Regions from separate parts of the Homo sapiens genome. Here region 2 is linked to region 1. Evidence: fine-mapped expression QTL. A gene starts in region 1. The other region holds a variant in brackets. All regions are shown on one strand. Distances are between the middles of the regions.

Region 1 (5,000 bases):
AGGTAGCTTTCTTTCCTATCTGTGCTAACCTATTTGCAAATATATAAATACTTCTTAAACTCCGCAACACCTCTTATTTGTATTCTATTTCCAATAAAAATCCAAGCAGCCTCTCATATTTTAATTGCACTTCAACCTATTTTTTTAGTGATGACTCTTTTTTTTTTTGAGACAGAGTTTCACTCTTGTTGCCCAGGCTGGAGTGCAATGGCACGATCTCGGCTCACTCCAACCTCGCCCTCCCGGGTTCAAGTGATTCTCCTGCCTCAGGGTGTAGCTAGTATTACAGGCACGCGCCACCACACCCAGCTAACTTTGCATTTTTAGTAGAGATGGGGTTTCTCCATGTTGGTCAGGTTGGTCTCGAACTCCCAACCTTAGGTGATCAGCCCGCCTCAGCCTCCCAGAGTGCTGGGATTACAAGCGTGAGCCACCGCACCCGGCCCCTCTTCCTCCCCGACCCTCCCTCCCCCCAGACGGAGTCTCGCTCTGTTTTCAGGCTGGAGTGCAGTGGCGTGATCTCAGCTCACTGCAACCTCCACCTCCCGGGTTCAAGCGATTCTCCTGCCTCAGCCTCCCGAGTAGCTGGGACTACAGGCGCACACCACCACACCCAGCTAATTTTTTTGTATTTTTAGTAGAGACGGGGTTTCACCATGTTGGCCAGGATGGTCTCGATCTCTTGACCTCGTGATCGGCCCGCCTCGGCCTCCCAAAGTGCTGGGATTACAGGCGTGAGCCACCGCGCCTGGCCCATTGATGACTCTTTCTTAACGACTCCATCAGAAATCTGTCAGTTAATAAACGTGCTGCTCAGTTAGTGACGAGAAATAACTGTATGTTAGTGGTTAAGAAGCCCCATAATTGCAGCATTTAATACCTGCTGTTGTTCCTAATACCACCAGGCTGACTCAGACTAAGGAGCCCTCCAAGTTCCACTGTCTAATAAAGACCTGTCAAAGTGAAAACTCAACAGTGGAAACTCCAGAATTCATTCAACCGTTGTACCTGCTTTACCTACATAAATAAGCAGAACTGATTTTTGGGTTCTTTGCCACAAGAAGATGCGCTGAAAACAAAGCATCAAATGGTTCTGCAAAAAATACTCCTCCTCTTTACAGTGAAGTTTAAATTAGATCAAGAATGCTACTTACAAAGATATTCTGAATTACAGGATCTCCTGATTCATCATAATGAACTTTTCAACCCTGTTAAGTATCAAAACTGCAGCACAAAATCAGCCAACATGCGAACTAAGGACTAAAGACAGTTCATAGGTCTTTGGCGATTGTGATTATAAAATCACGTGCCTGAGGACCACTAAGTCTGAGGTACACACCAAATCATGCAGCTCAAGATAAGCAGAAAGCACTGTTCCGTGCTCAACCCACCCCCCGCCCCACCAACCATCCAAAGTCAATGCTGGTGCCCAGGACCCGTGAGTCCTTACCATTAAATATGCCCGCCCCATTTCCTCCCCAGTTGAGGAAATCACAGACTCCTTGGCCCCAAGAATCTTAACCCTCGTCTTCATACAATTCTCCAGAAACCTTAACACCGGCTTTTTTAGGCTCCCACCACCTAAAACAAAGTTCATAAAATCCTGACGGCAGTTTCCTTCAGAGCTTAGGCTCTCGACCACACCCTCCGACCAGGCCTGTCTCCCTCCTGCCTGCCCCCTGTAGAGGGAAGGCTCCCCCTCCTTTTGGTCACTCTGCCTGGCCGCTCTACTCACAGGATAGCGGTGTCGGGGGGCAGCAAGCCCGACAGCGCCCTCCAGCTCGGTGCGGGCAATTTCCTGCGACTGCAGTCCAGGAGAGGAATGCGGCAGGAGCAGGGCGCGGGGCAGAGACCTGCTCCGGCGGCGGGCAACAGGAGGAGAGCGGTCTGGGCAATGAAGAGTAACCGAGAAAGCACTCTAGATCGACACCCCAGCAACTGCTCCTCCGGGACGCCTAGGGGCGCCGGCGCCATTTTCCCCCTCGACCTGGACGTGGCCTAGAAGAGCTGCCTGCTAGAAAAGGAGGATCGGCGGAGAAGCTCAGCAGAGATGCTCGGTGGCTGCACTGTCTCCCGAAGCCCCGGCTGAAGGCTGTACCATCTAAAGGCATGCAAGGAGCAGACGCAGCGCGACAGCGGGGTCGACGGCCTGGGACACACGGCCTGACGGACACCTCTCGTCCGCCCCTCCCCACGGCGCAACGTCCTCACGCACAGGGGCCAGCCAATCGGTGCCATAAGATGAGGTTGCGCCCGGGGCGGAACTCAGTGAGGGGCGGGGCCAGACGCAGCCGAGTATCTTGAGGAGAAGGACTTTAAAGCGTTCAGGGATTTTAGCTGCCGCTGTGGAGTTCCGCCGCTGTTCTTCCGCTGGAGGGCGCAGTAGTTCCTTAAGAGGGAATGGTGCGGCGAATAGCTGTGAGTTCAAAGTCCTGACTACAGGTATATCTACTGTAGTAGAAAAGGATCTTTTATTTGCTCTGGGCTTTAAGAAAGGGGAGTGGCAGAAGGGCTGCCTTCCAAGTCGCACACACGAATGGGTCACGGGAGCTTCTATCCTGGCTTTGGCCAGATCGGCCTCCAGAGCCGAGCTCGAGCCTCTTCTGCCCCCTGCTGCTTGGCTGTAGCCCCTGCTCTTCTGCAAGTAGGCGGCAACTGCCATTTGCATAAGATCAATATCACTCTCTGTTAATGGCCTTGTAAGCTCCTGAAGGCAGAGGCCCTGTTTCTTCATCGGTGCACCTCCACCTTTTGTTCTAGCTTGGAGTTCAATAAATTTTGGTGGGACTGCACCTGCATGTCTATATAAAGGAAATACCCTTCTCTTTGGAGGGATGCTGTCAAGGTCACTCTCAGAAAAGCAAGCGAGACAAGAGGGTGTTGAGCAGTCAACAAAGCAAAGACTGGATGTGAGGAAATTTATTTCTCCTAAAGCAGAGGCTATGGAAAACTTACTAGGAACAGTGAAGTCTGGCCATCTTATGCTCATTCAGCCATCCAAGGTTGTAAATAAGACTTTGAGAATAATAGTGATGGTTCACTTATACGTAGTGAACTTTTCAAAGGGCGTTTGCATCTGTTATCTTGTTTGCTCCTTCAGTGACTGTGACATTGGCAAGACAATTATTGCTGATGATGCAACAAGCCCCAAGAGGTTAAACCAAGTTACTCTTGAGGCAGGGGCAGGTTCGACATTAACATGGGTTTTCTGACATAAATTGAAAATCTGAGCAGGTTAAAAAGAATGATAATGCCTAGGTTAGGGTTCTCATAGAAAGTAACTGAAAGCAATCTTTCCCATGGCAGATTATGGAGTCATAATTATGTTTTTAAAAACCTTTTTCTGTTTTTTTTTTTTAATATTGAAGTATATATTGGAAACAAGGCCATATCCAATGCTACAGTCCAAACCAAACTTTTAAAGCCAAGACAGCGGAATGAAACTTACTCTTAGCCTTCTTCCCTTAGCTGTTGAGCAGACTTAACAAACTCTGGTAAGAAATCCGGCATAGGCAGGAACCTTACAAAAAAAAAAAGGAGGCAGTTTAGTTCCTTTCTACATTATAGTTTCAGAGCTTTCCTATGAAACTATACCAAATGGGGCCATTAGAAATTAATGCTCTCTAACCTGTATCCTCCGCAGTAAGTGGCTCACTGCAATCTCTGCCTGCCGTATTCAAGCGATTCTCCTGCCTCAGCCTGCCTAGTAGCTGGGACTACAGGTGTGCACCACCATGCCCGGCTAATTTTTGTATTTTTAGTAGAGACGGGGTTTTGCCTTTTTGGCCAGGCTGGTCTCGAACTCCTGACCTCAGGTGATCCACCCACCTCGGGCTCTCAAAGTGCTGGGATTACAGGCATGAGCCACTGTGACTGGCCACAAATACACGTTTTTTTTGTTTTTTTTGTTTTTTTTGTTTTTTTTTTGAGACAAAATTTCATTATTGTTGCCCAGGCTGGAGTGCAATGGCACAATCTCGGCTCACCGCAACCTCCGCCTCCTGGATTCAAGCGATTCTCCTGCCTCAGCCTCCTGAGTAGCTGGGATTACAGTCATGCGCCACCACGCCCAGCTAATTTTGTAGTTTTAGTAGAGATGGGGTTTCTCCATGTTGGTCAGGCTGGTCTCGAACTCCCAACCTTAGGTGATCCGCCCGCCTCGGCCTCCCAGAGTGCTGGGATTTCAAGCATGAGCCACCACACCCAGCCGCAAATATGTGTTTTTTTTTTTTTTTTTTAATTTATTTTTTTATTGATAATTCTTGGGTGTTTCTCACAGAGGGGGATTTGGCAGGGTCATGGGACAATAGTGGAGGGAAGGTCAGCAGATAAACAAGTGAACAAAGGTCTCTGGTTTTCCTAGGCAGAGGACCCTGCGGCCTTCCGCAGTGTTTGTGTCCCTGGGTACTTGAGATTAGGGAGTGGTGATGACTCTTAACGAGCATGCTGCCTTCAAGCATCTGTTTAACAAAGCACATCTTGCACCGCCCTTAATCCATTTAACCCTGAGTGGACACAGCACATGTTTCAGAGAGCACAGGGTTGGGGGTAAGGTCACAGATCAACAGGATCCCAAGGCAGAGGAATTTTTCTTAGTGCAGAACAAAATGAAAAGTCTCCCATGTCTACTTCTTTCTACACAGACACGGCAACCATCCGATTTCTCAATCTTTTCCCCACCTTTCCCGCCTTTCTATTCCACAAAGCCGCCATTGTCATCCTGGCCCGTTCTCAATGAGCTGTTGGGCACACCTCCCAGACGGGGTGGTGGCCGGGCAGAGGGGCTCCTCACTTCCCAGTAGGGGCGGCCGGGCAGAGGCGCCCCTCACCTCCCGGACGGGGCGGCTGGCCGGGCAGGGGGGCTGACCCCCCCCACCTCCCTCCCGGACGGGGCGGCTGGCCGGGCGGGGGGCTGACCCCCCAACCTCCCTCCCGGACGGGGCGGCTGGCCGGGCGGGGGGCTGACCCCCCCACCTCCCTCCCGGACGGGGCGGCTGGCC
Region 2 (5,523 bases), 33 kb before region 1:
AAACTCTGCCACTTTAATGTTATGAAACCACACAAAAAATATGAAACACACAGAATCAGTATATTCATACATTGCTGGTGACAACTTTAAACTAGTGCTATCTTTTTGGAAAGTACCTGGTGGCACTTTTCAAGATCTACTAAAAATGTTCATATAAAAAAACTCATATTGCTTGATTCAGGAATCTGACTACCAAATACCTAACCTAAGGTTAACAGTCCCTCTAAAAGAGAAAAGCCTTCATTCATTAAAATGCCTGTGATCATTTTTAATGGCAATTAAAACTGTATGATTACAAAAATTCCTAGTGGAAAACCATTCTGGTTTAATTTTTTTAATTCTGTTAAGATTATAAGTGTGTAATATATAAAATTTTAAAACAAAAATACAAACCACAGACAAAATCTTTCAGATCCACATTCAGGATGCTTTGCCCTGCTAGCCATTCAGGGTGTGCACAGCTTACATTCACAGAATGTTGAAAGTTATTATCAACCAACCATTGAAGTAGCCACTTCAAATGGCAGTCACAGAGCAAACTGCTTGTGTTCAGAATCCTGCAGGAAAGAAAAGAGGAAAAGCATCCTTTGTTTTACTTTTCATTCTAAACGTCTTCAGTATTAAAACCTTACCACACACCTATCCATTATTCTTGCCAAAAACATTTAACATAAATCATGAGAAAACAAATTGAGACTGTCAGCCAAAATTCTTTAAATATATCAACCTCATGAAAGACACTAAAAAAAGAGAGGGGAAGAAGGGTGGCCAGGGATCTGTTTTGAAGACGACTAAAGAATCATTACAATAAAATGAAATGTGTGATCCTTGATTGAAAAAAAAATCTGCAAATGACTTTTTTTAACATTGGGGAAATTTGAGTATGGACTCTGTATTAGTTAATATTACCTTATCGATGTTAATTTCTTTGGGTGTGGTAATGGTGATGTCTTCGTTAGAAAATGTACTTGTTCTTAAAAAATACATGCTGAGATATTTAGAGGTGAAGTGTCACCATGGCTGCAACTTTTAAATGGTCAGCAAAAAAACTGTGCATATATGTATATATATATTTGTGTGTATGTGGAGAGAGAGCAAGAGATAAAATGAGAGAGGAGGAGGGAGGGAAATAGAACAAATTCAGCAAAAAGTTAACAATTGGTGAATCTAGATAAAGGGTATGGGGTGTTAATTGTACCTTCCTTTAAATTTTTGAGGTTTAAATTTTTCCCATGAAAGTATGGGGAAACACTTACTATATATTGGAGCATTGAGAGATCTTTGTTGTAGACAACATATAATTATTGTCAAATTATTTCATCAACACTAAAAACACTTCAGCACTAGGCCAGGCTCAGTGGCTCACACCTGTAATCCTAGCACTTTGGGAGGCAGAGGCGGGCGGATCACCTGTGGTCAGGAGTTCCAGACCAGCCTGGCCAACATGGCGAAACCCTATCTCTACTAAAAATACAAAAATTAGCTGGGCGTGGTGGATGGCACCTATAATCCCAGCTACTTGGTAGGCTGAGGCAGGAGAACTGCTTGAACCCGGGAGGCAGAAGTTGCAGTGAGCCGAGATCACGCCACTGCACATCAGCCTGGGCAACAGAGTGAGACTGTCTCCCAAAAACAAAACAAAAAGAAAACCCACTTCAACACCGTGCAATGTGTAATGCAATCTAAACTAAGAGCACTGAAAAAGTATTTGTGGTTTATAACCCTGTAAAACATATCTGAAAAATCAGTATTTTCTCTCAATGACCCCTTAAATGTCCCATCCACTTAGAAGCAGGGAAAGTAAATGATTTTGAGAACTTGCTTTATGTGCATGATCAAATCCTTATCAAGTTTAATGTTTGGCATAAAGTATCTAAGATCTGATTCCACAGAAATTTCAATTTTAACTCTTTTTTTTTTTTTGAGACAGAGTCTCGCTCTGTTGCCCAGGCTGGAGTGCAGTGGCGCAATCTCGGCCCACTGCAACCTCCGCCTCCCGGGTTCAAGCGATTCTCCTGCCTCAGCCTCCCAAGTAGCTGGGACTACAGGTGCGTGCCACCATGCCCAGCTCATTTTTGTATTTTTAGTAGAGACGGGGTTTCACCATATTGGCCAGGATGGTCTTGATCTCTTGACCTCGTGATCCACCTGCCTTGGCCTCCCAGAGTGCTGGGATTACAGGCGTGAGCCACCATGCCTGGCAAAGTTTCAATTTTAAGAATGAAAAAAATTGACTTACATTGTTCAACTGTTCAAAGTTGACATATTGTTATTAAACAAGAGGGGCACTGGCAAAGATTACTATGCTTTTATAATGCTTTAACAAGTTTCATTGAGTAATTTTTTCTCTAACAGTTGGTTTGAACAAACTGCTATTGCAGGAACTTTAACGCAACTGTGTTTTGAGACAGGAACTTGCTGTGTTGCCCAGACTGGTCTCTAACTCCTGGACTCAGAGGATCCTCCCACCTGAGCTTTCTGAGTATCTGGGATTACAGGCATGAGCCACCACACCTGGCTCTAATGCAACTTTTTTACTGAGAATTGTTGGTTGCTTTTGGTTACTTTAAAAGTCATATTTATAATACTTTTTAGGTCAACATTTATTAAAATCCCTCTATACTTTTTGGTATTCCCCACAAGGCTTTGCATCAATAACAGGAGGTGTATGAAAAACTTGCATATAAATTTTAAAATACTTTCCATTAAAGTTATATAATTATAGTAGAAAATTAGAAAGTACCACTAAACCAAGAGGGAGAGAAAGCTCCTCAAATCCTCACTACTCAAAGACAACCACTAGCAATATTTTAGTATAATCTATCCACACATTTGTTGAGAGAATACCGTATA[C/T]TCTGTTAAGTACTTGTGCTCAGGATTTGGTTAGTATATGAAGAATGGAAAGAAGCAAAAGACACAGAAGTGAAGGAAGCTACTGTGAATTAAGTTTTGTCTGTGGCCAGGCACGGGGCTAAATACTTTATTTATTTATTTATTTATTTTTTGAGACAGAGTCTTGCTCTGTCACCCAGGCTGGAGTGCAGTGGTGAGATCTCAGCTCACCGCAACCTCCACCTCCCAGGTTCAAGCAATTCTCCTGCCTCAGCCACCTGAGTAGCTGGGATTACAGGCACATGCCACCACGCCTGGTTAATTTTTGTATTTTTAGTAGAGACAGGGTTTCACCATATTGGCCAGGCTGGTCTCGAACTCATGACCTCGTGATCTGCCCGCCTCGGCCTCCCAAAGTACTGGGATTACAGACATGAGCCATCGTGCCCGGTTGAGGTAGGCATTTTCAATTCCATTTTCTAGAAATGGAAACTGAGATTTTGGAGGCATTCAGTATCACGTCTAAAATAAATGGTAGAGTTAGGATATGGGCCCAGGTCTTTTGAGTCCAGCTTATATTATACCTAAGAAAACATAAATTGGATGAGGTCACTCCTCTTTTCTAAAGATACAAAAATTAGCTGGGTGTGGTGGTGGGTGCCTGTAATCCCAGCTATTCAGGAGGCTGAGGCAGAACTGCTTGAACCCGGAAGGCAGAGGCTGCAGTGAGCTGAGATCGTGCCACTGCACTCCAGCCTATGTGACAGAGGGAGACTCCATCTCAAAAAAAAAAAAAGACTTTTATTTTGCCATGATGTGTAATCTCATGGAGGCTGAAGAGACATCTAGGGGCTGTCTGGATATCTCCAAAGCCCATCTGAGTGTAGATAAAATACTTAGGCTATTTCCAATTGTTCTTTTTCCTTTTCAACCCAAGTCATTACTTTTGGGAGTCCCCAAGTCCCCTGAGAGATCCCCAGGAAGGGTGGGGGGCCTACAGTCCCAGTGACAAAGAGTCCAGAATGAGAAGGAAAAAGTCTAGCAGTGGGTGGACAGATGGATGGAGGATGTAAGAATTTGAAGGGAGTCATATCAAAGGGCTCAAGGGAACTGGAAGGAACATTAAAGGTGGTAAGAGGAGGAATAAGGAGCAGTAGCAATGGGAAGAAAGACAGCTTACAGGATGCAGTCTGGGGAGATCTTAAGTATTCCAAACAGGCCAATAAAGGTCCAACAAGGAGGAGGTGGACAGAACCAGTGGTGGAGCAATATAGTTAGCAGGGGCTCAAACAGAGGGGATTCAGATGCCAGAGAAATTGCCATGGGAGAAGTAGGATCCATTAGAGACAACAGAGTAGCCTCACAGAGTTCCAAGGACTTTTAGTCCAGGGAGTCAGGGAATAAACCCCACTCAGGAAAGAGAGCCAGGAAGAAGACCTTCAAGCCCAGGAGGTACCTTTCAAAAGAAGTCTGGCCTCTAGCCCAACTCCAGAGAATATATTCACAATCTTGAGAATCGAAATCTTTCCTTACCAGCTTCAACAGATGTTTGTCCGGAGCAATGGTTCGTTAGTCTGACTCACCATTGGATCCCCGATCTATCAGTCAGGAGTGAAGACAATGGCTTCAAAGGTGCACACTTGGGGTCCTGGGTGAGAGGTCTGGGGGTCCAATGATGAATCTGATCCTATCGGAGTCACAGCACCGTAACTGTTAAATAAAAAATTACTCAGTGATACTTGTTAAAGCATGGTAAGGTAGACGTTATTCAGGATCATCTCAATAGATATAGGGACCACGGCAATGTGATGTTGCAGCTGGGGAGAGAGACTGGGTTCGACTCAGTGAGGGAGAGACAGTAGGGAAACAGCAAGGGCAAGTATAGCCAAGGAGCAAGGTGGGTTTGCTTTCATCCCACTCAGTGGATGTGAAATTACTAAAAAATAACATCCAGAGTAAGGAAGACTCTGGCTAAACCCTAACAGGATTCTTGCTGAAGACAGGCCAGGGTGATCAGACATCACCTGGGAATGGTCTACAATGAGGAAGAGTTCTTGCTAAACTGGTTTTACAGGGTTTGTGCTAAAATTGGATTTTACACAGCTAGGCCTAGGAGAAGGTTTAAGGGCTTGCCTACGGGTTGGTCAAGCAAAGAATCTTTGTGACAACTCTCAAATTACTAAATGACTCTCTGAAGATTGAGACTGCAATATTTGCTTTGACCTACTGTTTAAATTTTATGTTAAACTGAGTTCTTGTAACAGTTAAAACTTTCTTGCCAGCTCTCAGGTTATCACTGGCAAAAAAAAAGGAGGGGGGCGGAGTATACTAATTTGTAGTAAGTCACAACTTATAATTAAACTAAGCCTATGAGAAATAACTCAAAATATCTCAACAGATCAAAATATCTACTTTAAAAATCTGGCAGAAAATAACTATGATGATTTTCATAACATTTTAATTTTAGTTTTTATTGTTAACATTACTCAGCTTCTACTCTGTGCCAAGCTCTGTGCTGAGCATTTTCTCAAAACCCTCCAGTTTCCTAATGCATACAAGAAAGCAAAAATCCTAATTCCTCATGGTCTATTATGATCTGCCTCCTAACTCTCTCTTTAAAAAGAAAAATATGAACATAATTTTATTGTTGGACCTATTAAAACTGTAAATTCGATATGCTTTTCAAGAACA

Alleles and levels. Alleles are on the strand shown, and positions count from the first base shown. SD is a standard deviation of normalised expression in the study named.
As copies of T replace C in region 2, the expression in tibial nerve of the gene that starts at base 2,183 in region 1 goes up (moderate effect, 0.69 SD a copy in GTEx).

What was found. PIP is the estimated chance that this variant, and not a neighbour inherited with it, causes the effect. A credible set is the group of variants that fine-mapping cannot tell apart.
Region 2: its variant is the best candidate, but not a certain one, in a credible set for the expression of LRIG2 in tibial nerve (GTEx, PIP 0.83).

The regions. Positions count from the first base shown.
Region 1 is chr1:113,070,381-113,075,380 of GRCh38, reverse strand. LRIG2 (leucine rich repeats and immunoglobulin like domains 2) reads right to left here and starts at 2,183. Exons shown (of 18, transcript NM_014813.3): 1 at 1,736-2,183. The coding sequence starts at 1,974. It overlaps LRIG2-DT (LRIG2 divergent transcript), which reads left to right and starts at 2,279. Exons shown (of 3, transcript NR_103777.1): 1 at 2,279-2,442. RefSeq lists enhancers at 1,014-1,063, 1,663-1,722, 1,339-1,870, 1,903-2,212, 1,871-2,404 and 1 more.
Region 2 is chr1:113,102,628-113,108,150 of GRCh38, reverse strand. LRIG2 (leucine rich repeats and immunoglobulin like domains 2) reads right to left here. Exons shown (of 18, transcript NM_014813.3): 12 at 394-557. Among named protein-coding and RNA genes, the nearest start is that of LRIG2, 32 kb to the right of the region's middle. The variant C/T (reference allele first, on the strand shown) is at 2,854.